Regions from separate parts of the Homo sapiens genome. Here region 1 is linked to region 2. A link means that fine-mapping ties the variant in region 2 to the plasma level of a protein whose gene starts in the linked region. Region 2 holds a variant in brackets. A gene starts in the other region. All regions are shown on their reverse strands.

Region 1 (14,791 bases), not on the chromosome of region 2:
TCATTATCCATGCATGCATTCATCCATCCGTCCATCAGTCCATCCACTCATGCATGCCTCCATCCATCCATGCATCCATCCATCCATATATCCACCCACCCATCCTCCAAGCATTTATTGTATCAATTAGCATCTTCTCTCTGCTAGGCTGAAAGACTAGCAGGAAGAACAAGACCCCAACCAACCCCTCTCCAGCCCCTTAAACCCAGATCCCTGATGCTATGCCCGCTACATCCTCCAGCCTCACTAGATAAAACAGTTCTTGGGCAGCCTCAACCTTACCTCACACAACCTTGGGGAGGCTGCTGAGTGCTGGGCACCCTCCCGAACTGAGCAACCAGATACCTCTCCAAGTCTCATTCCCAATCCACCAGACGCTTAGCCTCACAGAGGCCAGAGGTGCCCCTTCCTGCCTTCTCCATCCCTCATGCTGGCTCAGGCCTCCTTCCACTTGCAAGTAGGCCCAGCCAAGACATCTGGAATTTGGCCTTTGACCTTTCTTCTCCTGCTTTGCCTGCTTGCCCCCCAACCCCTCACCCCCACAGAGGCTGGACTCCTGACCTCTGATCCCATCCACCCACTTGTCAGACGGCCTGCAGCCATCCGTCCCCTTAGACGCCCTAGTACTGGCCATTGCCCGACTCATGACTGGGCTCACCACACCCTTGGACCAGGCTCAGGACTGCCCCTAAGGAGCCTCTGGAGGCTGCCTCCCCCAGCCCGGCCCGCCCTGCCGCCGGGCTCTCCAGCCAGCTCCCTCCCCTTTCCCAGACTATTGCAACAGCCTCCTAACTGGTCCCTGGCCTCCAAGCCCCCTCCACCCACCACACACAAGCCACAGAGATCTCTCATCATGCCTCTCTTCCCCATGGCCTCCAGAAGGGAGCCCCGGACTTTTAGGGACAACTTCAACACCTTTCAAGACAGGCCCCTACTCCTTTTCTCCACTCCTTACTGTCCCTAACAATGTCCCTCACTTCAGCCTGGTGGAGTCCTTTGTATTCTCCAAACCCATCTTGAGCTCTGCCACCTCAGTAGTCTTGCCCAGGCTGTGCCTTCTTCCTGGTATGCCTTCCTCCCATCTTGTTTTTGTTTTTTCGAGATGGAGTCTCTGTTACCCAGGCTGGACTGCAGGGGGTGATCTCGGCTCACTGCAGCCTCCGCCTCCAGGTTCAAGCGATTCTTGTGCTTCAGTCTCCCGAGTAGCTGGGACCACAGGTACCCGCCAACACGCCGGGCTAATTTTTGTATTTTTAATAGAGACGAGGTTCCACCATATTGGCCAGGCTGGTCTCGAACTCCGGGCCTCATGTGATCGGCCCACCTTGGCCTCCCAAAGTGCTGGGATTACAGGCGTGAGCCACTGTGCCCTGCCCTGTCTTTGGTTTTTGACTTGAGGCCTAACTCTCAGAACTTTGCTCAAATGATGCCTGAGGGTGCTACAGCAAAAAGAGAACTGGAATAAGAATAAGGAGACCTTGGCTCTAGTCCCATTCCTGCCACCGACACTCTTTGAAACTCCTTGTACCTCAGTTTCCCCATCTGCAAAAAGGCCTGCCGATTGCCAGAGGTGGTCTGACTTCATGTGGAAGGCCAGTGAGTGTTGGGGACAAGTGAGCTTTGGCTGCAGGAAGAATCCCAGCTCCCCACTGCATCTCCCTGAGCCAGGTTCATCACTTCTTTGAAGCTCATTCACGAGGCATCGTGAATGAGTCAGGAGCTTTCTAGGCTTGGGGATAGAGCAGGGAACCAAATAACAACCCTGCTCTCATGGAGCTCACAGTCTCCAAGGGCAGAAGTTCTCCCCTGGGGGTGATGCTGCTTCCAGGGAACATGACATTTGGCAATGTCTGGAGACATTTTGGATGGTCCAACTGGAGGGATGCCACTGGCATCTACATAGGAGCCAGGAACACTGCTAAACACCTTGCAATGCACCACGCAGTCCCTACAACAAGTAATTACCGAGGCCTGAATACCAGTAACTCCAAGGTTGAGAAACACTGGCTAGGGGAGATTTGGGCCATAAGCAATAAGCAAATCCACAAGTAAATTTCTTTTTCTTTCTTCCTTCCTTCCTTCCTTCCTTCCTCTCTCTCTTTCCTTTCCTTCCTTCCTTCCTTCCTCCCTCCCTCCCTTCTTCCTTTCCCTTCCTTTCCCTCCCATCCCCACCCCTCCCTTCCTCTCCTTTCCTTCTTCCTTCCCCTTCTTTCTTCTCCTTTCCTTCCTTCCTTCTCTCTTTCTCTCTTTCTTTTTAAAAAATTTTTTTTATTATTATTATACTTTAAGTTTTAAGATACACATGCACAACGTGCAGGTTTGTTACATATGTATACATTTGCCATGTTGGTGTGCTGCACCCATTAACTTGTCATTTAGCATTAGGTATATCTCCTAATGCTATCCCTCCCCCATCCCCCACCCTACAACAGTCACCGGTGTGTGATGTTCCCCTTCCTGTGTCCACGTGTTCTCATTGTTCAATTCTCACCTATGAGTGAGAACATGCGGTGTTTGGTTTTTTTTGTCCTTGCGATAGTTTGCTGAGAATGATGGCTTCCAGCTTCATCTATGTCCCTACAAAGGACATGAACTCATCATTTTTTATGGCTGCGTAGTATTCCATGGTGTATATGTGCCACATTTTCTTAATACAGTCTATCATTGTTGGACATTTGGGTTGGTTCCAAGCCTTTGCTATTGTGAATAGTGCCGCAATAAACATACGTGTGCATGTGTCTTTATAGCAGCATGATTTATAATCCTTTGGGTATATATCCAGTAATGGGATGGCTGGGCCAAATGGTATTTCTAGTTCTAGATCCCTGAGGAATCACCACACTGACTTCCACAATGGTTGAACTAGTTTACAGTCCCACCAACAGTGTAAAAGTGTTCTTACTTCTCCACATCCTCTCCAGCACCTGTTGTTTCTTGACTTTTTAATGATCGCCATTCTAACTGGTGTGAGATGGTATCTCATTGTGGTTTTGATTTGCATTTCTCTGATGGCCAGTGATGATGAGCATTTTTTCATGTGTTTTTTTTGGCTGCATAATTGTCTTCTTTTGAGAACTGTCTGTTCATATCCTTCGCCCACTTTTTGATAGGGTTGTTTGCTTTTTCTTGTAAATTTGTTTGAGTTCATTGTAGATTCTGGATATTAGCCCTTTGTCAGATGAGTAGGTTGCAAAAACTTTCTCCCATTCTGTAGGTTGCCTGTTCACTTTGATGGTGGTTTCTTTTGCTGTACAGAAGCTCTTTAGTTTAATTAGATCCCATTTGTCAATTTTGGCTCTTGTTGCCATTGCTTTTGGTGTTTTAGACATCAAGTCCTTGCCCATGCCTATGTCCTGAATGGTATTGCCTAGGTTTTCTTCTAGAGTTTTTATGGTTTTAGGTCTAACATGTAAGTCTTTTCTCTTTCTTTCTTTCGTTCGTTCTCTCTTTCTGCCGAGACCAGCTCGGTCGGGGAGACCCTAACCCAGCGGTGCTAGAGGAATTAAAGACACACACACAGAAATATAGAGGTGTGAAGTGAGAAACCAGGGGTCTCACAGCCTTCAGAGCTGAGAGCCCCGAACAGAGATTTACCCACGTATTTATTAACAGCAAGCCAGTCATTAGCATTGTTTCTATAGATATTAAATTAACTAAAAGTATCCCTTATGGGAAACGAAGGGATGGGCTGAATTAAAGGAATAGGTTGGGCTAGTTAACTGCAGCAGGAGCATGTCCTTAAGGCACAGATCACTCATGCTATTGTTTGTGGCTTAAGAATGCCTTTAAGCGGTTTTCCGCCCTGGGCGGGGCCAGGTGTTCCTTGCTCTCATTCTGGTAAACCCACAGCCTTCCAGTGTGGGCGTTATGGCCATCATGAACATGTCACAGTGCTGCAGAGATTTTGTTTATGGCCAGTTTTGGGGCCAGTTTATGGCCAAATTTTGGGGGGCTTGTTCCCAACATCTTTCCTTCTTTTCTTTTTCTCTCCCGCTCGCCTCTCCCCTCCCCTCCCCTCCTCTCCTCTCCTCTTTTCTTTTCCACAGTCTTGCTCTGTCGCCCAGGCTGGAGTGTGCAGTGGCGCAATCTTGGCTCACTGCAACCTCCACCTCCCAGGTTCAAATGATTCTCCTGCCTCAGCCTCCCGAGTAGCTGGGATTACAGGTGCACCACCACGTCCAACTAATTTCACAAGTAAATATATTTAATGTCAGATAGTGATAAGTGCAGAGCGAGAAAATGCAGGAAGATCCAGTGGTCAAGGAGCCCCAGGGGGCGGTGTGGGGTGGGGTGAGATGGTCAAGGACTCTGGTACTTGAGCTGAGCCCTGGAGAAGGTAAAGAAGCAGAGCATTTTTATATTGGAGGAAGAGCATTCCAGGCAGCAGGAACAGCCAAGACCAAGGCTGTGAGGCAGAGTGTCTGGAGCATTTAAGGAACAGCAATGAGGCCAGAGTTTGGAGGCAGATGACATAGACCAGGAGGCCATGGCAAGGACTGTGGCCCTTCCTCTAAGCGAGATGGGGGGCTCAGAGGGTTCTGAATGGAGAAGTGATCAGATCTGACTTGGATTTTGAAAGGATCCCTCTGGCAGGATGGAGAGGGCAAGAGAGACACCACGGGAGAGGCTGTTGGGGAAATCTAGATTGGCGTTGCTAGCCACCTGGGCCGGGGGTGGGTGGCAAAGAAGGTGTCCAGGAGTGGTCAGATTCTGGATCTCTTTTGAAAGTGAAGCCAACAGGATTTGCTGAGAGACTGGATGTGGGCTGTGGGAGAAAGAGAGGAGTCAAGCATGACCTCAAGGTTTGGGGCCTGAGCCAACAGAAGGATGAACTCCTCCATCTTGACTTTTGTCTCCTGAGAAGGGGAGTCATTCTGTGTGCTTCACATGTATAGACCTTGTAAGAAGGAACTTCCAGGCATATGGCAAGAACTTCCTAAGCCCTGGTTCTCGAGGGGCTGGCTGGGTCTGCAGGGCCAGCCTAGGCACTGTAAGGTGGTTTGCAAAAACGCACCCTGGTCTCCACCCACCACATATGCTCAGAAGACAGGAACATTTGCTTCAGGCTCCACAGCTGACAAAGCACATTTGCAAACACTGAGCGCTGTGACGCAATATCTCAGCCCTGCTGAGCTAAAAATCCTGGACTCATTGCCCTCATGTTGCAACTGAGAAAAAAGGAGACCCAGAGAGGGCCAGTGACTCCCCTGCAGTCACAAAGTCGATCCATCTGTGGCAGAGGGGGAAGCTGCATCAGGGCAGTTTACTGAAGGGCGGAACCTCTCCCCCACCTCCCCACACTGTTTCTAACTTCTGCTAAGAGTGCAGCGGGTGTGCATGGGTTAATCCGCCAGCCAGCTCCCCAGAGGCCATCCTGGATGATGGGCTCAGTGCACATGCCTCCAGAGGCCTCCAGGAAGGGCGGGAAGAGGACCCTGGCCAGGCCGAAACAGCAGGCCCCGGGGGCAGGGAGGGCTCCACACACGTGATGCCTGTGTCACATATACACATATATGTCACTGTGTGCCCCATGCCCATACATGGCCTTGCATGGGTCCCCTCACAGCCTTCCACATCCTGCGTGCAGCCCAGCCCCCACCCAGCCCCCTAAACCACGCACCCTGCCTTCCTGACGCAGGAGCCCAGAGAGGCATTTCCTGTTTAGGGGCTGCCTCCTCCCCCTCTAAGCCCAGGTTCCCAGGGCCCCAGGCTGAGCTGGGGTGAGGGGAGGGCAGCCCCTGGCCCCCTCACTCCCCCAACACCCCCACACGCTGGCCCAGCTGGAACCAGAAAGCTTGAGTATAGGGGGAGAGGCTGACGCAGGGGCTCAGTAAATAAATGAGAGGCTGAGGATGCCTGTGCCTGGGTGACCAAGCTGTTTCCATTCAGGCCGAATCGGAGGTCTTCATATGTCAGGCCATGTAGAATGCCACACCATTTTTGTATGTGCACCTAGGGTCTCAGCATGTCAGAATGTGTGTACGTGTGGCAAGGGAGTCATCTGCAAGCCAGCATAGGTCCACGGTGAGGTGAAGGGACAAACAGCTTGGCAGAGAGTGCACTCTTGCATGGGGTTGGGGGTGGGGGAGGCGCATGCGCGCGTCTGTGGGGCAAGAAAGGAGTGGGCATGAGGGTGTTCCCGTGCATGGCGAGCAGCTGGGCTGAGACTGCTCCCGGGTGTGATGGGGCTGCTGTGTCCAGATTTGGGTCTCTGAGTCTCTGGGAAGCGACCTCACCCCACAGCCCCGAGCCCCAACTTGAGGGTCACAGAGCTCGGCAGGCAGGCTTTTCCCACCCCCTGACTCTCAGCCCCATGGGGCCTGGGGCAGCCGTCAACTGCGCCTTCTCCCCTCCTCCGCCCCCAACCTTAGAGCCCCCCACCCCACTGCTTCCTGCTCTAGCGGCCCCCGGGGAAGAGGGAGCAGGGAGCTGGCAGCCGCCCCAGCCCACTCCTTACAAGGCCTGAGCCCGGCCCCAGGCCCGCCCCCGGCCCGCCCGCAGGAGGCCCCAGGCCCTCCCCCTGTCAAGAGCTGCCGCCAGCCCGGGGCCGGACCAGTCCGGGGGCATCGCGATGCTGCTGCGCCTGTTGCTGGCCTGGGCGGCCGCAGGGCCCACACTGGGCCAGGACCCCTGGGCTGCTGAGCCCCGTGCCGCCTGCGGCCCCAGCAGCTGCTACGCTCTCTTCCCACGGCGCCGCACCTTCCTGGAGGCCTGGCGGGCCTGCCGCGAGCTGGGGGGCGACCTGGCCACTCCTCGGACCCCCGAGGAGGCCCAGCGTGTGGACAGCCTGGTGGGTGCGGGCCCAGCCAGCCGGCTGCTGTGGATCGGGCTGCAGCGGCAGGCCCGGCAATGCCAGCTGCAGCGCCCACTGCGCGGCTTCACGTGGACCACAGGGGACCAGGACACGGCTTTCACCAACTGGGCCCAGCCAGCCTCTGGAGGCCCCTGCCCGGCCCAGCGCTGTGTGGCCCTGGAGGCAAGTGGCGAGCACCGCTGGCTGGAGGGCTCGTGCACGCTGGCTGTCGACGGCTACCTGTGCCAGTTTGGCTTCGAGGGCGCCTGCCCGGCGCTGCAAGATGAGGCGGGCCAGGCCGGCCCAGCCGTGTATACCACGCCCTTCCACCTGGTCTCCACAGAGTTTGAGTGGCTGCCCTTCGGCTCTGTGGCCGCTGTGCAGTGCCAGGCTGGCAGGGGAGCCTCTCTGCTCTGCGTGAAGCAGCCTGAGGGAGGTGTGGGCTGGTCACGGGCTGGGCCCCTGTGCCTGGGGACTGGCTGCAGCCCTGACAACGGGGGCTGCGAACACGAATGTGTGGAGGAGGTGGATGGTCACGTGTCCTGCCGCTGCACTGAGGGCTTCCGGCTGGCAGCAGACGGGCGCAGTTGCGAGGACCCCTGTGCCCAGGCTCCGTGCGAGCAGCAGTGTGAGCCCGGTGGGCCACAAGGCTACAGCTGCCACTGTCGCCTGGGTTTCCGGCCAGCGGAGGATGATCCGCACCGCTGTGTGGACACAGATGAGTGCCAGATTGCCGGTGTGTGCCAGCAGATGTGTGTCAACTACGTTGGTGGCTTCGAGTGTTATTGTAGCGAGGGACATGAGCTGGAGGCTGATGGCATCAGCTGCAGCCCTGCAGGGGCCATGGGTGCCCAGGCTTCCCAGGACCTCGGAGATGAGTTGCTGGATGACGGGGAGGATGAGGAAGATGAAGACGAGGCCTGGAAGGCCTTCAACGGTGGCTGGACGGAGATGCCTGGGATCCTGTGGATGGAGCCTACGCAGCCGCCTGACTTTGCCCTGGCCTATAGACCGAGCTTCCCAGAGGACAGAGAGCCACAGATACCCTACCCGGAGCCCACCTGGCCACCCCCGCTCAGTGCCCCCAGGGTCCCCTACCACTCCTCAGTGCTCTCCGTCACCCGGCCTGTGGTGGTCTCTGCCACGCATCCCACACTGCCTTCTGCCCACCAGCCTCCTGTGATCCCTGCCACACACCCAGCTTTGTCCCGTGACCACCAGATCCCCGTGATCGCAGCCAACTATCCAGATCTGCCTTCTGCCTACCAACCCGGTATTCTCTCTGTCTCTCATTCAGCACAGCCTCCTGCCCACCAGCCCCCTATGATCTCAACCAAATATCCGGAGCTCTTCCCTGCCCACCAGTCCCCCATGTTTCCAGACACCCGGGTCGCTGGCACCCAGACCACCACTCATTTGCCTGGAATCCCACCTAACCATGCCCCTCTGGTCACCACCCTCGGTGCCCAGCTACCCCCTCAAGCCCCAGATGCCCTTGTCCTCAGAACCCAGGCCACCCAGCTTCCCATTATCCCAACTGCCCAGCCCTCTCTGACCACCACCTCCAGGTCCCCTGTGTCTCCTGCCCATCAAATCTCTGTGCCTGCTGCCACCCAGCCCGCAGCCCTCCCCACCCTCCTGCCCTCTCAGAGCCCCACTAACCAGACCTCACCCATCAGCCCTACACATCCCCATTCCAAAGCCCCCCAAATCCCAAGGGAAGATGGCCCCAGTCCCAAGTTGGCCCTGTGGCTGCCCTCACCAGCTCCCACAGCAGCCCCAACAGCCCTGGGGGAGGCTGGTCTTGCCGAGCACAGCCAGAGGGATGACCGGTGGCTGCTGGTGGCACTCCTGGTGCCAACGTGTGTCTTTTTGGTGGTCCTGCTTGCACTGGGCATCGTGTACTGCACCCGCTGTGGCCCCCATGCACCCAACAAGCGCATCACTGACTGCTATCGCTGGGTCATCCATGCTGGGAGCAAGAGCCCAACAGAACCCATGCCCCCCAGGGGCAGCCTCACAGGGGTGCAGACCTGCAGAACCAGCGTGTGATGGGGTGCAGACCCCCCTCATGGAGTATGGGGCGCTGGACACATGGCCGGGGCTGCACCAGGGACCCATGGGGGCTGCCCAGCTGGACAGATGGCTTCCTGCTCCCCAGGCCCAGCCAGGGTCCTCTCTCAACCACTAGACTTGGCTCTCAGGAACTCTGCTTCCTGGCCCAGCGCTCGTGACCAAGGATACACCAAAGCCCTTAAGACCTCAGGGGGCGGGTGCTGGGGTCTTCTCCAATAAATGGGGTGTCAACCTTACCCAAGGCTTCTGACCCCCACTGGTGCTTAAGGGAGGTTCTGGGAGGACTCAGCAAAAAGGAGGGGATCTTCCTTCAGTTTGTCTGAGTCCTCAAAGAGATAAGGTAAGATCCCTTTAAGGGAGGGTATGCCTCAGAGATTCTCAGGGAAGCAGGAGCCCAGAGAGGGCAGAGCCTTGCCCAAGGTCACACAGTTGAGCCCAGCAGTGGGAGGTTTGGCATGGGGAGAATTTCATATTTATTCCTTATTTTACCAAAGCTCCAAGAAGGTGGGGCTGAATCTGGGGGACGGTTGTGGAATTAGGGCATCTGCTGAACCGGACTGGGGTTTAGGGGTCAAAGTAGGCTCTGGGGCTGGTGATTCAGAGGAGTGAAGGAGGGGTCTAGTGGGTGAGTTGCTCCTTTCTTCAGACACTTCCCTTCCCATCCCTGTAAGCTTCGCGGAAGTTGGGGGCTGGGGCTCAGGGTAACTCAAGGGGACTGCCAACCCCTGGTTTGTGGGTGCTCTTGGAGGCATTCCTCCGCTTGCTCCGGGGAGGAGGCTGGGATGGGAAAGGCCGGGAACCTGGGAGAGATCCCATGCTAACTGCTTGGACAGCCGCAGGAGCAAGGCCTCCTTTTGCCAGGGCCGCACGTTGCTCTTGTCCATGTTGGCTGGGGGTGGTGGGGGACAGACAGAGCTCAGCAGACCTGAGCTTGAGCGAGGGCTCCGGCTGCTCAGGACTGAAGTGTCCCAGGAACTGGAGGGCCTGGTCAAAGATCACAGCCTGGTGGGAGTGACCTCCCTCATTTCGTGCTCACTGCCTTGGGGGGCGGGGGTGAGACCTGGGGAGGGGAGGCGCCAGTTCCCACCGCCTCTGTAATTTTTCAGTTACAGCCTCTTGGGGGCCTCTAATTAGGACGGGGCAGAGCCGCCACGACCACCCGGGCAGGCGAGGAGGAGTGGCCCAGCGCCCCCTTCGGGCCTGGACCTGAGCTGGAAGGCTGAGCTGGGCCCCAGGGAACCAGGAAAGGAGGGGCCGGAGCTGGGGATGAACCAGGGGGTCGCGGAGGGGGCGGAGGGAACGCTACGCACCGCCCCCGGTCCCCGCTCTCACGTTCCCCTAACTCAAACCAGACGTCCCCGCCAGATCCTGCACAGCTTTAACCTCGGAGACGCCGTCGGGCAGGTTTGCTGGATGCCAATGAGGGTTGCGAGGCGGCCCAGACGGCTGAGTCTGGGAAGGAGGTGAGGAAGCCTGGGGAGCGACAAGGCCTGCAGAGACGGGATGGTCTGGAGTCCCCTCCGTGACCTCGGGTAGGGATCTAGAGCGCCTCGAGGGCAGGAAACAGTTAAATACACTGCAGTCGGAGGCGGGGGATGGGAGTGGGGAAGGGGGCCCAGAGCCGGCTCTTTGTCATCTGGTAATGAGCACCAGATGCGGAGCTGCGTGCGGGCCTAAACAGACGGCCTCCCAGGGCAGAGCCCCGGCCTGCGCCCAGCCCGGGCTCAGCCCACTTACTCGCAGGCCCCGCCTCATTCGGGCGCGGCGGCGAACTGCATACTCCAGCGGTATCAGCCCGGACCTGGGAGCTACGAGCCACGCCTACTCGCTGCAGAACAGAAGAGAGCCCCCGGGAGCTCTCCAGAGGCCCCGCCCACAAAGCCACAAGCCCCGCCCCTGCCAACTCAAAGATTCCAGCAGCGATTGTGCCCGCCCCCTGCCCTCTTGGCCCCGCCCAGTCCCCCGCCCACAACCTACAAGCCCCACCTCCTCCGCTCGGCGCGCGCAGATTGGCGGAACTATTAGTCTCGGCTTCTAGGAGGTATGAACTTCGCCCCGAGTTTACACATTCTCTTCACGCGGCGCTACAGGCCCCGCCCAACACAACTGCAAGCTTCGCCTCACAGAGCCCTGGACACTGCAGGGAATCCCTCAGAGGTCTTAACTCTGTTGGGGGATGATGTAAACTCCGCCCTCCAGGGAAACGTGTGAAGTTCCCCTCAACCTCCTCTTCAGGCTCCGTCCCCAGCTACAAGCTCCGCCCCCTCTCAAGCTCACAAAAGTGGAAGAACTGCGCCCTCGTAGGACTGTCACACCTCACACATCGAGCGGAGGTAGCGGTTCACCTACACGGAGCCCCGCCCCCGGGGCCGCCCACGAAAGATGCAAGCCACGCCCCTGGGGGCCCTGGAGTCCCGCCCACCCAGAGCGCCCTGGCTGCGGCGTAGCGCACAAATACGGCTCTGCGAAGAGCGCTACCGAGCGAGCCTCTTATCGCACGCCCCGCCCACACTCAGGCTCACCCTCTTGGCGCAAGCACCGCCCACTCCACCCCTGGGTCCCTTACCACCTTCGCGATATGCCCAGATCCACCAGTCCTCCGAACCCCTCATCTCTCACCACGATGCCCTTGAACCTGGCCCTGGAGCCCTCTTCTTCCTCCACCTACGGTTTCCGTTTGTCCAGATTTCGGGTTCTCTGGGCGAGCCCGGAGACTGGGCCCGGACAGCCGGGCAGATGGCGTCGATGGGCCTTTGGCGCCACCTGGCCTCGGCCCCACGGACTTACAGCCACCGCGAGGCCTCGGTAGGGCCTCTCTCTCAAAGCGTACTAATTGCTCAGTAAATAGAAATAGCTGCTTAATTCGTTAAATGTTAGTGTTACTTAAATATCTGCCGACTCCCCCCACGGGACAGCCCATCCTTTCGCAGATGCCTTTCGTCGTATGTGGAAATTCGTCCCTAAGGGAGCTTCGCACTGGCCCTCGAGCCACCCTATGAGCTGAGCGCCCCTGACAATCTCTAAAGTGGCTGGCTGGTCGAACTCTTGCTGTCTCTCCCCGACAAATCCTTTCGCCTGGAGGGCGAAAGCATCGCCTCTCATCTGGCGGCCTAGAATTCCTAGGACCAGGTTTCCCCCGCCCCCACCTAGTGCTCCAAAGGCTAGACACCTTCCCTGGGGGCTGTGTTGCGAAGGGGTGGGTTTGGGCGGGGAAGCCCTCAATTAGGAGCTGAAGGTCGTAGTTTTTAGGGACAGTGTCTCAAGGGAGACCCTATCTCAGCTCTCATCTCTACCTCTGAAAATAACAGCCTGGAGGGCAGGAGACGCTGAAGTTCAGGGCTAGGAACCCAGTAAAATATTTTTCAAACATTAGTGGGACAGACAGGGAGCAACCCTTGAGGAGGAAGGGAGTTGACACCACTGAGCTCCAGTTGGGCCCTTTGCTTCCTGCCTTAGCTGCCAACCTTGCCCTTACCCACCTCCGGGCAAATCAGGCCTGGGGAGAGGGATACTTTCCAGACCAGGTTCCAATGCTCGTGCACTAGCCATTACAAATGTAAATAGGGTTTAGCGCTAAATACTGACGATAATAATAGTGAATGCTTGAAGCACTTCTGTTTTGTTTTTGTTTTTGTTTTTTGTTTTTGTTTTTGTTTTTTCGAGACGGAGTTTCTCTCTTGTTGCTCAGGCTGGAGTGCAATAGCGCCATCTCGGCTCACTGCAACCTCCGCCTCCCAGGTTCAAGCGATTCTCCTGCCGCAGCCTCCCAAGTAGCTGGGATTACAGGCACCCACAACCACGCCCGGCTAATTTTTGTATTTTTAATACAGACGGGGTTTCACTATGTTGGTCAGGCTGGTTTCGAACTCTTCGCCTCAGGTGATCCACCCACCTCAGCCTCCCGAAGTGCTGGGATTACAGGCATGAGCCACCATGCCCAGCCTTGAAGCACTTCTTACATGCCCGGTCCTTTTTTAAGGGCTTTACTTGGCTTAATCCATGTAAGATTCATAACAACCTCCAAGAAGTAAGTGCCGTTCTTACCACAATTTACAGAGTAGGAAGCTGAAGGCACTTGCCTAACTGCATTAAGCCATCTGCCCTAGTTGACCAACTAGTAAGTGGGGGTTTGAACCCAGGCAGATCCTGTGATCTTTACCCCCTACAGCAAAGCCAGTCCATATGTGATAGCCAAGTCTCTAATCAGAAAATGCCCACACCTGGCCAGACGCGGTGACTCACGCCTGTAATCCCAGCACTTCGGGAGGCTGAGGCGTGGGGAATGACTTAAGGTCAGGAGTTCGAGGCCAGCCTGGCCAACATGGCGAAACCATGTCTCTACTAAAAATACAAAAATTAGCCAGGCATGGTGAGGGTACCTGTAATCCCAGCTACTCAGGAGGCTGAGGCAGGAGAATCGCTTGAACCCAGAAGGTGGAGGTTGCAGTGAGCTGCACTCCAGCCTGGGTGACGAGTGAAACTCTGTTTAAAAAAAGAAAAGAAAAGAAAATGCCCACACCCTGGGAAACTCACTTTTAAGGGTGAGGCTGCAAGACGCAGACTCTCAGAGAGGCTGACGGCACTGAGATTGACCAGAGAGATTGAAGCCTTCTTCCCCCAAGGAGAGTTTGTCGTCTGTGGCTTTGGCAGGTGATGCTGGTAAATAAAGCATTTGCTGGGATCGTGGGATCTGGACCATGTGCCCAGGCGAGGTGCGGCCTTGGGGCATCTGTTGGCTCATGTGTTAGCCTGGTTTCAGTGAGTCCAGTGATTTTTCTGGGAGGCCAACTAGCACAGTGGTAAGAGCTAGCACTCTGCATCAGCCTTGTTTGCATGCCAGCTCCACTGCTTAATGGCTGGGGGAGCTCAGGGACATTCCTTTATTGCTCTATGTTTGCCTCCTCATTTGAAAAGCAGAGATACTATAGAGGAGGAAGGATTCTATATGAGGAAAACTAAGGTTTCCTGCTTGAAGCCTATGAGTATCTTCAGGATGGTGCAGGAAGCTGCTATCAAAGACACCATCTGCTTTAGCTGGCTCTGGGGATCCCTGAAGACAGAGTCCAGAAACTGATCACGGGGAGAGCTGAATCAGCAGAAACTGACGTCTGAAGCCCACCACATCCCTGAGGTAGAGGCTTCGAACACTCTCCTTCACTTGTCTTGGGTGTCTCAGTAATTTTTTCCTGACACCATTGGCCAAAAAATACCTAACAATTTCATTTCATAAATAGGTCCAACAACATAGTAATTTTTTCATGACACTATCGAACTGCTGTTAGGTATTTTTTGGCCTATGAATGTCATGAAAGAATTACTCCACAGTTCCATTTCATAATGCAGTGGCTCACGCCTGCAATTTGGGAGGCCGAGACGGGCAGATCACTTGAGCTCAGAAGTTCGAGACCAGTCCAGGCAACATGGCAAAGTCCTGTCTCTAAAAACAAACAAACAAAAAATACAAAAATACTAGCGGAGTGTGGTGGCATGTATCTGTGGTTCTAACTACTCAGGAGGCTGAGGTGGGAGGATCACATGAGCCCAGGAAGTGGAGGTTGTAGTGAGTCGAGATCATGCCTCTGCATTCCAGCCTGGGTAACAGAGAGAGAGAGAGAGAGACCCTGCTTTAAAAAAAAAAAAAAAAAGTTAGGTCCAAACAACATAAGAAATACTTGTTGGCGGCCTGGCGCGGTGGCTCACGCCTATAATCCCAGCACTTTGGGAGGCTGAGGCAGGCGGAACACGAGGTCAAGAGATCGAGACCATCCTGGCTAACACGGTGAAACCCCCTCTCTACTAAAAATACAAAAAATTATCCAGGCACGGTGGCACGCGCCTGTAGTCCCAGCTGCTTGGGAGGCTGAGGCGAGAGAATTTCTTGAACCCGGGAGGCGAAGTTGCAGTGAGACAAGATTGCGCCAC
Region 2 (14,791 bases):
TAAACAGAAACATCATAAAAAAGGATATCCAAATGACCAAATAAGCACATAAAAAGATAATAAGTCACTACTTATCAGGGAAACGCACATTAAAAACACAATATCACTGTATACCCACCTGGGTGGCTAAAGTTTAAAAGATTAACAAGACCATGATATACCTCAATTAAAAACAAACAAGAAAATCTCAAATTGCCTAATAGGTTAGATCACCACCCTACTCAAAATTCTTCAATGATTTTACATTGCTTTCAGGATGATATTAAACCCTTCAAAGTGACATTCAAACACTTCGGGATGGCACATAGCATCTGAGAGTGTATGTAATATCACAGCTGCCCCACGGCACAGGATGCTATGTGCCATACTGAAGATTCCAGCACCTAGAGTCTTGAGGTATATTGCGGTCTTGTCAGATTCTGCCCAATCCTATTCCTAACTTCCCCAAGCTTGCCATGCTATTGCCATGTTTGAGCCCATGCTGCTTTCTGTGAACAAAGCTATCTTGCCAACTCATACTTATCCTTCAAGATCAAACTCCTTCTCCATAAAGCCTTCCATGAGTTACACATAACTAAACTGTTGTTCACAAGAGGAAGAGTCGTCTACGAGTCGCTGACTCTCCGGGATCTGCCCTACTTTCACAAAGACATGCCCCATTTATGAACACACGAAGCACAGTGTGCCATATTTTGGGTACCTTGACCTGGGGAGAATGTTGTAAATGGATTTGTTTTGTTTCTTCTGGGCTTAGAAATGTAAACTGTTTGCTGTTCTCTACTGCCCTCTGTTGAAACAAAAGTGGACAGTGTACATCTCTTCTGCAGGACAAAGGAATCCAGTTTACAAGGAAATGAAAGAGAGATCTGAGTGGTTTAATGCAACAAACAGCCAACTAATGGTCTAGGGGAGTGAGATTAAGAGTCCAGAGCAGGCCGGGCACAGTGGCTCACGCCTGTAATCCCAGCACTTTGGGAGGCCGAGGCGGGCGGATCACGAGGTCAGGAGATCGAGACCATCCCGGCTAAAACGGTGAAACCCCGTCTCTACTAAAAATACAAAAAATTAGCCGGGCGTAGTGGCGGGCGCCTGTAGTCCCAGCTACTTGGGAGGCTGAGGCAGGAGAATGGCGTGAACCCGGGAGGCGGAGCTTGCAGTGAGCCGAGATCCCGCCACTGCACTCCAGCCTGGGCGACAGAGGGAGACTCCGTCTCAAAAAAAAAAAAAAAAAAAAAAAAGAGTCCAGAGCAAGGAGAACCCGGGGCTGCACTTACCTTAAGCCACTTGGTCTGCTCTTCTGATTGAATGTCTCTTGACCTCAGCATGACTTCAGACAGTGGTACTCAGAAAGAAAGGCTTGATTCATTCATCCGCACTCTGGCTTTAGACCCTTAGTGAGGAGGGTGGCATTTGAAGTTGTAGTAGAAAACTAGGAGTTAGATTCTAACGCCTACGGTCTGCAACGCAAATGCGTTGGAACCTCCCCATCAGGCCTGTTTTGCCCTTTAACTGTATCAAGTGCATGTGTCTCCAGCAAGGGTAAAATTCAGTAGGGTGGGAACTTGGTCCTAAGCAAACATGCTGAAGGATGCTGGAAAATGGTCCTGGGGAAGGTTGAAGCCATCCTCCTTAGTAGCAAGTAAATACTTGACAAGAACATTTGAAGAACTGTGAATGAGGCTCTAACCAATTCAAACTTGCCTCCTTGTCACTGGAAATAGACCTGCTGCAAGGTATCAGCAAATAAGGAGTCATCTCTTTGGCTTCCAGTTAATTTTCTAAAAGCACAATTCAGCTCCAGTCTGTGTCTCTAGCTCTAGCCCAGATTTCTCCTTCCAGTTACCCAGCTGATATTGACCACTCCCCTGCTATGTCCACAGGCACCTCAAACGCAGAATATCCAAACCTGAACTTACCATCTCTCCACAACCCCTTCCAGCTAAGCTTCTTTCCATCATATTCCCCACCTCAGGGAATGGCACCTCCTAAGGCAGGAATCTGGATATCATTGTGATTCCCACATTCTCTTTCATAACCCACATCCAATTGTGCCAGTTCTCCTTGCTAAATATCTCAACCCCACCACCATTACCTTAGCCTGAGGCTATCTTCATCTGCCACCATGACTACCGCAAGAGACCAACTCATCTTTCTGCTCCCAGTCTTACTCCTCCAGCCTATTTACAAGCAGCAACCAGAGTAATTTTGTTAAAGTACAAATTATATTATGTCACTTTCCTGCTTCAAATAATTCAGTGGCTCCCCACACCCTCACGACAAAACCCAAACTCCTTAATGTGTTCTGTAAAGCACTGTGATACCAAAACCCATTTACTCCACTGCAGCTCCATCACACTGTCCTACTCTCCTCATACTCAGAATACAACAAACTCTGCTCTAGGGGAGACTCTTTGATCTCAGTATAGACATTTTCTACGCTAGAGGCCTGTTCTGGCATCCTACGATTGAAAGGTTCAAGAATATTTAGCCATTTCTATCTTTAAGGTGCTTCTGCCTTGATTTTAAGTACTAATCAGAAAGGAAAGATACATGGAAAAAAGTCAGCAATGTAAAATAAATGGTTTAAGCATTTCACATTTTTATGTCACTTATTTTATGTCTCTTTTTGTTGGGTTCTAAGGAGAGTTGTAAAGAGAGTCAAAAAGCAGGGAGCTAAAAGGCATTAGTAAGCCCCTCGAGCCAGGCAAGTTGTTAAGCAGACAGCTCCTCTCAGAATACAAGCAAATCTGTTTCATAAGGATCATAGAGTGAAACACACGAATCAAGCTATGGATACACCAGAGGATAATAGAATTGAATCTTGAGTAAATTCTCTGAAGGAAAAGAGACCAGGCGTGGTGGCTCATGCCTGTAATCCTAGCACTTCGGGAGGCGGAGGCAGGCGGATTACATGAGGTCAGAAGTTCGAGACCAGCTGGCCAACATGGTGAAACCCCGTCCCTACTGAAAATACAAAAATTAGCCGAACGTGCTCACTTGAACCCAGGAAGTGAGGCAAAGGTTGCAGCGAGCGGAGATCATGCCACTGCACTCCAGCCTGGGCAACAGAGTGAGACTCTGTCTCAAAAAAAAAAAAAAAAAAAAAACAAAAAAAGAAAGAAAGAAAAGAAAACACCTTCATAAAACTTTTAAATTTCGGAATGATACAAAACTAAAACCAACCAAAAACAAACTACTAACTGCAAACTGGAAAAAAAATGTGTAAAAATTCATGTCTCCCTGCAAAGGGGTATTTTTATTATATAAGAAATTAATGAGAAGAACATAGAGTTTTGATAAATAGGCAAAGGCAGGGATATCAATAGAGAAACCCAAAAACATTTAGTTAAACAAAAAATAAATATCCAAGAGGGCCAGACATGGTGCTAAGTGCTTTCCATCTAATAGCAATATGAAAGAGGAAATGCAACTGGTTGACAGACACATGGTAAATGTTGATTCCACACTAGTAATCAAATAAATGCAAATAAAAATTATGAGACCCCATTTCTCAGCTATGAAATTGCCCACAATTAAGAAAAAAGAACGTGATTAAATGAACTTGCATATATTTCTGAATAGGGTAGAAATTAAAACAATTGTTTTGGAAAGAGATTTGGAAAAACTATCAAAACCTTGGAAATTCATGTACTTTTGACATTGTAATTTTGCTTCTGGGAAAATGACCTTTGGAAATATCCCAAAATATACAAAAGCACTGTTACTCTTTGCAGAGCTACTGAATGATAATGAAAATTAGAAACAACCTAAAATATCCAAAATCATGCTTCAAGTAAATTGCTCTGCTGCTACATCAGCTGGAGTCTCCCTGAGCACTGAGAGAGAGGGGTATGAATGAATCAGTTAGGTGGCTTTCTGAAGCAAGTACAGAAAATTCTGCTCAAATGGCTTAAATAACAATAAATGTTTTACTATCTCACATATTAAGTTTCTTGAAGTTAGGGCAGCTCCAGAGCTGTTTAATCTACAATAATGTCATCAGTAACCCAGATTCTTCCCTCTCTTTGCTTTGCTACTCTCAGCATGTCAGCCAGTCTTCTCTGGAAGCAAGTTGGCTGCCGTAGTAGCTCCCAGCATCACATCTTTAAGCATCACCATGTCCAAAGACTGAGAAAGAACTCGTTACTTCCTGTGTCCCAGAATCCCTCTAGCAGATTATCCCTGAGGATTAATTGTCCAGAACTGTATCATATGCTTAGTCCTAAGCATGGCAAGACAATAGAACACCATAATTGGCTTAGAGCGGCAGTTCTCAAAGTGTGGTCCTTGTGCCAAGATCAGCATTACCTGGAAACTTGTTAGAAATGCACATTCTCAAGCCCCACCAGAATCAGAAACTCGGAGGGTAGAGTAGAGCTCACCAAGTTGTGTTTTTAACAAGCCCTCCAAATGGCTCTGATGTAGCTCAAATTTGAGAACCACTGGTTTAGACTAACTGAAAGTTCACACACTGAGGCTGGAAAAGGTCTAGGCTTCTCTACAGCTCATGACCACAACATTGCTAAACGAAATCAAGTTCCGTTAGCAAAGAAGAAGGGAAGAAATGGCTGTGCAGTAGGCAACTGCCCATACAGGATAAAGTTCCTGTTTTGGTGGCCAAAATGACCCAAATCTTTTTAAAAAAAAAGAAAGTCAAAGTAATACCATTTCTTCCTTTCCACACACCCTCAAATACATTTTTTAAGCATTTCTCCTCCCATTTAACGTGAAATGTGAAAGATGTTGAGTGGAGTTTGCAGTTGTTCGAGACCAGCTGGCCAACATGGTGAAACAACATGGTGTTTATGTATATGTGGAATCATTATAAAAAAGGAAGTTGCAGAATAATATGCATTATGTACTATGCTAACAATAACAACAAAAATGAAGAAAATATAAATACATATAGGTGGATGTGTGCTTATATGAATATAAGTGTATGGGGAAAGTTCTGGAAAGATATACTACAAGCTTCTAAGGGGTTACCTCTGAGGAAGGGAGTGAAATTGGGGGAGGGAGTCATTAAATCTCACTGTTACTTTTATTTTATTTACGTCCGAATTGTTTCACTTATTTGCAACAAGAACATATATAGATCACGCGTGTATTTTCAAACCAAAAAGTGCTTAAAGCCACAATAACAAAATATTGGCGAAAGGGACAAGGACTGAGTCTCTAGGGATGGTTCTGAGCTCTGCTCATACTCCCAATGATGTTGCCAACCTTTCTCTCTTCTCCAGTGGGATGGCACGGATAAAAACAGAACAACACAAAACAGTATTTCCACTTCTTTTTCAAAAACTTTTTCAAAAACTAAGTTTTCTTTTTGGTGTTACCTTGTATTGTTCTGGTAGATTCTGAAGATTTTGCACATGAGCAGAAGCATGAATTTAGTTTTTATAATTAACTTTTAACTCTTAGAAGTATAACTTGCTAGCTCTGCTAGAAAATCCTTTTGGCTCCCAAAAGCTGCCTTCATTAGGATTTTTAGAAGACAAAGGCTACTACATTCTGCAATATCTAGAAATTACCACTGGAAGGCAACATTCAGAATTAGAGAATATTTAAGATGGAAAGAGTTAGATATAATCTAGCCCGATTACCTCACTTTGCTATGAGGAAACAAGTTCAGGGAAGAGAAGTGGCTTGACAACTGACCCCTGTCAGACCGAAACCAAAACTGAGATTTCCTTCCTCCTTGGCCAGTATCCTTCCCATAACACATCGCCATCACTCTCTTTTTGAAACTTTAAAAACTTGCAAGTCTGGGAGGCATCTAAGCATGTTCTGATGTGAGATAGCACAAGGCAGGGCATTTAAAACTCACTCTTGGCTATAGCATAAAATTTTAGAAAGTTCTTGTATGTCAACAGGTCATATTATTTTAATAACCACAGCCAAAGAAAACAGGTGCAGCTTAAGGTCATCCCACAAAATCTGCTTCAATCCCATGTGCTTTTTTTCCCTTGTTGTCTGTCTATCTCTTCCTGGTTTTGTGAAAGTGTTCTCTCCTTGTCCCATGACTGCCTTTGTATGATGTATCTCGAGGTGTGTCTGTTTCCAGACCTCTCAGTAGATGCCTTGCTCTTCATGCATTTTCTATCTATTTTTAAGACACCATATTTGAAAACCTGGGTGTCTCTCTCAGTTTTTTGTGGGTTTTTGTTTTGTTTTGTTTTTTACTGTCCCAGTAACTGTGTCTTTCTGAGTTTTCTCTCACTGGTTTTCCTCTAAGTCCCATCCCATTTTGTGTCTTTATGTCTCTAACTCTGCCTGTTCTCCTCCCTTTTCTTTTATATTGACAGTTTCCTTTCCTATTTCTTTTCTTCACTTTACTAGACACATAATGGTGAATATTTTGTTTTGTTTTGTTTTGAGACGGGGTATCGCTCTGTTGCCCAGGCTGGAGTGCAGTTGCACGATCACAGTTCACTGCAACCTCCACTTCCCAGGCTCAAGTGATCCTCCCGCCTCAGCCTCCCAAGTAGCTGGGACCACAGGCATGTAGCCCCAGGCCTGGCTTATTTTGAATTTTTTTAAGAGATGGGGTTTTGCCAGGTTGCCCAGACTGGTGTTGAACTCCTGGCCTCAAGCAATGCTCCTGCCTCAGCCTCCCAATGTGCTGGGATTACAGGTATGAGCCACCATGCTGGGACCATGAATATTTTTTATTAAATAATTTTGATATCTATTGTATTTAAAGCTCAGAGCTTACTATATTTTGTTATTAATATTAAAATAAGCAAGTAGAAGCCAGGCAGTAGTGCTGGCTACTCAGGAGGCTGAGGCAGAAGGACTGCTTGAGTCCAGGAGTTTTTTAATCCAGCCTGGCTGACACAGTGAGACCTCATCTCTAAAAAAGAAAGCAAGCAGAATATTTTCTTAAAAGGCAATTATATTCCTTCTTGGCCAGGCCCAGTGGCTCACACCTGTAATCCCAGCACTTTGGGAGGCCGAGATGGGTGGATCACCTGAGGTCAGGAGTTCGAGACCAGCCTGGCCAACATGGCGAAAACCCGTGTCTACTAAAAATACAAAAATTAGCTGGGCATGGGGGCATATGCCTGTAATCCCAGCTACTTGGGAGGCTGAGACAGGAGAATCGCTTGTACCCGGGAGGCAGAGATTGCAGTGAGCCGAGATCATGCCACTGCACTCCAGCCTTGGCGACAGAGTGAGGCTTTGTCTAAAAAAAAAAAGGTATTTTTTGCCTCTCTGTTGGTACCAATTGTTAAATTCTTTGTGGACCACTGATGCTTACCAAAAAAAAAAAAAAAAAAAGTGGGGGCATCATATTTCCTCTAGTTGACATTAAGACACAGTAATTTAGCCAGAGGAGATCTTAGCAAACATACAGTCCACACTCCACTTTCTCATTTCATGATTGTAGAGACTGAGATCTAGACAATTTAATCGGTGGTCACCCTGGGTGACATAGCTAGGTCTAGAGCTCCTGGTCTCCAGGTCAGCATTTCTTTCTTCTTCATTAAATGTCAAGTTTCCTCCCCTGTTCATTATTAGCTCCTTCCAGAAAGAGAGTTTCTTATCTTTTTAGTAGGTACTCAGTAAATACCAAGGTATTCACTAGGATGCCTTTGGATGAAGGTAACAAGCCCTGACTTAAATTGGCTTAAACAGCAGGGAAATTTACTTGAAATTGTAAGAAATCTGGGTTGGTTGCGTTAGAAGCTCAGTGATGTCACCAAGACCATATTCTATCCCTCCACTCTGTCCTCCTTGGCT[A/T]TTTGGCATTGACCTCAGACTGGCTGCCTTCAAAATCTTAGGTTTTGCCAGCAGAACCTAGGACAAAATGAGCCCTTGTTCATGTACAGTGGGAGAGAGAGATCATCTCTCCCAAACATGGCACTCCCCTCTACCAGATTGGCCCTATTTAGGACAAAGTTCCGTCTTCTCCCACTTAACCAATAAAAGCCAGGGGAATGCTACACCCTGAGTGGCTTAGATCAGTCAAGATCCACCTCTGCATATGAGGGTGATTCCTGAATAGAATCAAGGTTATATTAGAAGGGAGGGAGAGGGATGGATATCAGGCTAGTACATCATATTCTATTTGTTGAGTTAACTGAGTCATAGCAATTGTTGAGTTGGAAAAAACTCAGAACCTACTGTGGATTCAAGTTCAAGAAATCATTCTTTCCTACATACAACAGCATTGCTCTGTAGCCCTGAGCTAAGAGAGCATCACGAAATACAGTCTTCTTGCTGTTTATAATCGTAAGCAAACTCTTGGACCTGGGAGGGGATGAATGGATAATGTCTGTCTGACTTGCTTCTTTCTAGTTAGTACCAACTACCTCCCTTCTTCCTGTGATTGTTCTTAGAATAGGATAAAAAATCTTCCCTTCCCTAGATCTTACAGTCTCCCCTTCCCCCAGGCCTTTCTATTTTTCAGGATTTTACTCTAATCACACCACCGAAGAATCAAGAAATCTTTAAAGTGTATTAGAGTAGCTAGTTGTGGCAGCACTAAAACACGGCTGCAAATTCTTTGACACTCTCTCCATCAAGAAATGAGGCCTACATCCTCTACCCTTGAATCTGGGTGGGCTTATAACTTCTGGTGATTAGACTACAGCAGAAAGAGAAGCTGTATAGCTTCCTAAATGTTATAAAGTCTTAAGGATAGCTGCCAGCAAGACCTTAGGACAAAATGAGCCCTTGTTCACGTCCAGTGGGAGAGAGAGAGAGAGACCCTCTCTCCCAAATATGGCAATCCTCTCTACCTATAACATTTACATAAATGTTATAGGTTAAACGTTCCACAACAAACTAAGTACTATTTAACATCAAGAGGAAAAAGAGACAGGAGAAAGGGTTAATAAGCCTGTTGATGAGGATCTAAGAAGAACAAAGGAGGCCTGGTTTGGGCCTGGCTACCCGTTGGTCTTGCAAAGAAGAGTCTGAGGTGGCAGAGCCTTCAGTGGCAGATGCCAAATTATCATCATGAGTGACTGCAAGACAGTGTCAGCTAAGATAGCCATTTCAAGCTGCTGAAGGCCTTCTCTTTTAGTCGTGGAGTCCTGTGATAAGAACTGAAAGTTGGAAGAGTGTGCTTGTCTGTGGCCTTATTTGGTCGGATGCAGTCTTTATCATTTTTAATTTGTTTCTTAGAACATTTTATCTTGTTGGCCAAATGCCCTACGAAATATAAAATGGAGTCTTTTTCTAAGATGGAGTTAGTTATGTCAAGGGTCCTTTATACAGTCTTCATCCTTTTTCCTGGCATACAACTCCTAAAATCCTTAGAATCTCCAAAGTGATGTCTTTTGGTGTGCTAATGAGGTAACTGATGGCTGGCAGCTCTTAGGTAGCTTCATAACAGGGGCTGGGCACAAGAAAGATCATGGCAAGGTCAGAGGATTGGGGCTTTCAGCTCCACCCTCCAAACTCCCTCTGGGAAGTGGAGAGGGGCTGAAGGTTGAATTGATCACCAATAGCCAATGACTTAATTAATCATTCCTAAGTAATAAAGCTCCCATAAAAACCCAAAAGGACAGGGTTTGGAGATCCTCCAGAGAGCCGAACACAGAGAGGTTCTTGGAGGGTAGTGCACCAGAGGGCATGGAAGCTCCAAGCCCCTTCCCACAGGTCTTGCCCTATGTACTCTTTACTTGTGTCCTTTGTAATATTCTTTATCACAAACTGATAAATGTAAATGTTTCCCTGAGTACTGAGAGCCACTCTAGCAAATTAATTGAACCCAAGATGCAGGTGGTGGGAACCCCCATTTATAACTGGTTGGTCAAAAGCACAGGTAAAACAACCTGGGGCTTCATCCTGGAGTATCAGAAGTGTCTTGTGAGACTGAGCCCTTCACTTGTGTCACCTGATGCTATTTCCAGTTAGATAGTGTTGGAATTCAATTGAATTTGAGCAGAAGTCCCAATCCCCAGACCTGTAGTTGTCAGTGACCTCTTAGGAACTGGGCTGCACAGCAGGAAGTGAGGGGCAGGTGGGGAGCAAAGCTTTATCTGTATTTACAGTAGATCCCCATGGCTCACATCACCGCCTGAGCTCCTCCTCCTATCAGATCAGCTGTGGCATTAAATTATCACAGGAGCATGAACCCTATTGTGAAGTACGCATGCAAGGGATCTAGGTTGCATTCTCCTTATGAGAATCTAATGCCTGATGACCTGGCATTGTCTCCCATCACCCTAGATGGGACTGTCTAGTTGCAAGAAAACAAGCTCGGGGCTCCCCCTGATTCTACATTATGGTAAGTTGTATAATTACTTCATTAAATATTACACTGTAATAATAATAGAAATGAAGTGCACAATAAATGTAATGCACTTGAATCATCCTGAAACCATCCCCCACCCCCCTACCCCTGTCCGAGGAAAAATTGTCTTCCATGAAGCCAATCCCTGGTGCCAAAAATTTTGGAGACCACTGGATTAGAAGACACCCAGTTGGTGCCCACTGCTGAATTGCTTGCTTGCTTGCTTGCTTGCTTGCCAGTGGAGAGAAATCCCCACATATCTGTTGTCAGAAATGTGTTGTGAGAGCATAGTGGGAGGAACTGAGTTTGTTTTTTCTACAGTTACAGCAATAGGTAACTGGAATTCAACTGCTGGACTATACCAAAGACTGCCAGGCCAGCCTACCTTTCTCACAGCCTTCTTGACTACCTGTCTTGGATGAGCTCACTGAAAGCCCACATACCTTCATTCTAGCATTTCCTCAGTCTGGTTGAGCTGCTTTGGAGGTAATACAGGTTGTAGGACTTCCCTCCACTCCTGCTCAGGACCGTTTTCAGCAGGCTAATCAGACAGCAGTTGGCACTGAGTACAACTGGAGAAATGTTATCAGCACTGAAGACTGCTCCAGCTACAAATGCACAGCGACCCACCTCAGCTGGACCTTTGGCATTGCTTGGCAATCCTTACAACTGTTTGGAATTCTTGGTAATTCTTGTACATACAAACAGTCGGCTCCTTCTCCCATGCACCACAATGGCCATTCTCAACTCTGGTGTTCTCAAACCCCCACCACAACTGTTACCCACTCTTTCTCGACAAGTGTCTTTGACTCCTCCTTAACCAAGAAAATCAGGACCAGCAGATGTGGATGGTCACTCAACATCTGAAAATGGATTTGCATATGTACCCCCTCAGCTCCTGCCTTCAGCTCAGAGCGAGAGGTAATCCGTATCCAGTTCACAGCCAACTCCCTGTCCATGTCCCATTCCCATCTCCTCAGGACCCACACTTGCTTCTCTAGGTGTTCCGTCCCTGTTAGGCATCCAACTTCTCCCACCCTGCTGGCTTCTTCCCAAAGACCTATAACCAAGCTCGTATCTTTCACTTAAAAGAAAACAAAAACTCCCATTCTCTTGTAACTACCTTTGCAGAATTGTGTCTGAAACAGTGAGAGAGATCTAACTTAATTGACTCCATCTTGCTTCTAACCTCCAAGCTGTCTTTCCTCATTCTTGGGCATAGGCTGAACTAACTTTGGGAGAAACTTAGTTTATAGTTTGTGGTTTAAAGCAAAGATGATAACAGCCCTTTCCCAGGGCAGACCTCCTTTTTTTCTGAAGACTAGATTGTCTTTGTAGGACTAACATTAGCCACAAGATTGGAAATTATGGTTTAGGAATCATGCAGGTGGAGGCTACAAGATTCTGACCCTTCCTAAGCACTGATCCTAAGATCGGTGCTTGAGATATTTTGCAGACCCTGCACTTGATGGATCACCTGGCAACACCCAGATCAATAAACTGGCTCATCTGATCTTGTGGTGCCCACCCAGGAACTGACTCAGAACAAGAAGACAGCTTCAACTTCCTGTGATTTCATCCCTGACCAATCAACACTCCTGGCTCACTGGCTTCCCCTCCACCAACCAAGTTGTCCTTAAAAACTCTGCTCCCCGAATGCTCTGGAAGACTGATTTGAGTAATAATAAAACTCCAGTCTCTGGCTCAGTCAGCTCTGCATGAATTACTCTTTCTCTATTGCAATTCCCCTGTCTTGATGAATCAGCTCTGTCTAGTTACCATCCTCCACTTCTCCTTTCTTATTGTGTCACTTAGGGCTCTGGGTTATAAACAACTTTATCAGAATCCAGATCTTTTAAGTAGAGGAAAAAGATTTATTGGATGGAAACTAGAGGAGGTGAGCCCATCCCACTGCTGTGATGACTGGGACCCAACCATCTCCCTCTCCTAGAAGTGAATCTCCCTTATGAGTAAACAAGTGTCACTTATTCAGGATTCATCTCAGAAGAGACTCTAATGGGCCAAACCTCAGTTATATGCCTGTCCTCTGTCTGCCTGTATCAGTTAGCTAGCACTTTTATAACAAAGTACCACAGACTGGGTGGCTTAAACAACAAAAATGTATTTTCTTACAGTTCTTGAGGCTGCAAGTCCAAGATCAAGGTGTTGACAGGGTTGGTTTCTTTTAATTTTTTTTTTAAAAATTTTATTTTAGATTTAGGGGTATGCGTGCAGGTTTGCTACATAGGTAAACTCCTATCACGGGGGTTTGTTGCACACATTATTTCATCACCCATGTACTAAGCCTAGTTACTCAATAGTTATTTTTTCCGATCCTCTCCCTCTTCCTACCCTCCACCCTCAAGTAGGCCCCAGTGTGTCTGTTGTTCTTCCTTTGAGTCCATAGGGTTGGTTTCTTCTGAGGCCTCTCTCCTTGGCTTGTAGGTGTCCATCTTCTCCCTGTATGGGTCTGTGTCCCAACTAACAAGGACATCAGTCATATTGGACTAGAGCCCACCTAATGATTTTATTTTAACTTAATTACCTCTTTAAAGGCTCTATATCCACATATAGTCACATCCTGAGGTATAGGGGGTTCCACATGTGGACTTCAACATATGAACTGGGAGAGACAAAATTTAGTCCTTAATAGTGCCCCAAAGTGGGGAAAAGGAAGATCTGGACCCTCGGGTTTCCATAGTAGAAAGCAATCACTGCTTTCTATTAAGTACTCACAGTGGGGCTTCTCCAGAAAGAATGATATGCTAATAAGAAGGGGAGGAGGAAGTGATCCTGGACAGCCAGATGATATGTGCACTATTCCTTCATAATGGAGATTCTGAAGAGGAGAAGCACTTGACTAAACACTTTTTCATTCCTACTCCGTCTTCAACCAAAAGCTGTCAAACTTCTGTTTCTCAGCCCCAGCCCCTGAAATTGCTCAGGAAAAGGTCATTAATAGTTCCTTGATTGCCATATTTCAATCAAACTCTTGTTTGAATTCTTTTCTACAACATTAATACTGTTACTGTTGACTACTCCTTCCTTGAAGATCTGTTCCCACTAAACTTCCTTGTTCCCTCCTCTTCAGCCCCTCCTATACAAACTCCTTTGTCAGCTATTTTTCCTGTGCACGCTTCAAAAATGTTTGCATGTCAAGTTTCTGTCATTGACTCTCTCCTCTTCTCCTCTCCCTCTCAATCCCTCCTTCCTTTCCCTCACTGTTTCCCTTTAATTCTCTCTCAATACTCTTACAGTTTCAGAGATCTTATCCTTACTTTATCTTAACCTAGGATCTCTGGATGGATTCAAATAGAGCTTCTTAAATTAAAGGAAACATAATGTGTATATTTGCATCCTTTCTTGGGAGAAGGCCCAAAGGTTTTTATCAGAGGTTTGAAACCTCAACCGTGTTGGTGCCTCCTAAATTGTGTCTTTTGTCAAGACCTGTCTTCTGAGTTCCAGGGCCATGTGTCTCACTGCCTACTGGAAATCTTCACCTGAAACCTTCACAGCTACCTCAAACTCAATAACATCAAAAGCTGAAATCATTGTCTCTCCCTCCCAAAGCCTGCTCATCTTCCCATTTTTCTTTTGTCCATGAAAGCTACTGCCATCCTCCTTATCACCCAAATTAGAAATCCGAGCATCACCCAGACCTCTCCCCCTTCATCACCCCTCAGCCAATCACTCACCAAGTCTTGTCCATCCTTCCTTCCTAACTTCTCTCCTGGATGCTTCCATTGCATATCCACTTTTTAAACAGAGTGGCTCTTGTCTCAACTAGACTGTTGAAATAATCTTCCAACTTTTCCCTCCACCTTCCATCTCTCTCCCCTCTAACTCATTCCTTGGACTGCTGTCAGAGTACTTTTCATAAAATATAAAACAGATCTTGTGATTCCCCAGTCTAAAGCCTTTTTATTAGTTCCCATTACCTTTTAGAATAAAATATGTACTGTTCATCCTGACACACAAAACTCTTCGTGATAAATACTAATTGAGTGCCTAGTATGTGCCTGCCCTTGTGCTAAATGTTGAGGGTACAGGGGTAAACAAGGTGAACAGCTTCCCTGCTCTCCAAGACCTTTCAGTCCACAAATGCAATGAGTTTACAGAGGAGAAGCACAAGCTCCTAAAGGAGTTGGGGTGGGGTTGGGGGTCAGAACCTAATTTAGAAAATTGAGGAAGGTCTCAACCTCCCATCTTGCATTTACAATAGTAATCAGCAGGTGTGGTACCAAATATGGAACCAACAATTTTATCTGCATTATCTCATTTAAGCCATGAGTGCCATTATTGTTAGCCTCACTTTACAGATAAGGAAACTGAGGGCTAGAAGGTTAAATAAGTGGCAGAGTTGGGATTTCCTCCAGATTCCTGTGAGACCCAGACATCTTAATCCTTTTGGAACCTGTGCTTCTCCTTTGTAGTACTCACTACACTTGTGGAACTACATCCAACTACACTTGTGGAACTACAGCCAGCTCTGCAAACATGACAGTCTACTTCACTCCAAGTCTTTGCTCATGCTGCTCCTCTTGC

Direction of the effects. Positions count from the first base shown, and alleles are read on the strand shown. Strength reflects both the effect of a copy and how common the allele is.
With allele T in place of A in region 2, the plasma level of the protein whose gene starts at base 6,555 in region 1 is higher (weak association).

Evidence for each region. PIP is the posterior inclusion probability: the model's chance that the variant is causal. Protein levels are from antibody-based Olink assays in UK Biobank. Linkage for the fine-mapping came from a reference panel and not from the study's own genotypes, which makes the PIPs less certain.
Region 1: CD248 starts here. The variant in region 2 is fine-mapped to the plasma level of the CD248 protein (UK Biobank, PIP 0.97).

What each region holds. Positions count from the first base shown.
Region 1 is chr11:66,308,808-66,323,598 of GRCh38, reverse strand. CD248 (CD248 molecule) reads left to right here and starts at 6,555. Exons shown (of 1, transcript NM_020404.3): 1 at 6,555-9,105. The coding sequence starts at 6,572. The coding sequence ends at 8,845. RefSeq lists enhancers at 3,552-4,051, 4,052-4,553, 7,110-7,806 and silencers at 6,357-6,626, 11,149-11,398.
Region 2 is chr1:161,552,354-161,567,144 of GRCh38, reverse strand. No RefSeq gene overlaps it. Among named protein-coding and RNA genes, the nearest start is that of FCGR3A, 9.9 kb to the right of the region's middle. The variant A/T (reference allele first, on the strand shown) is at 7,744.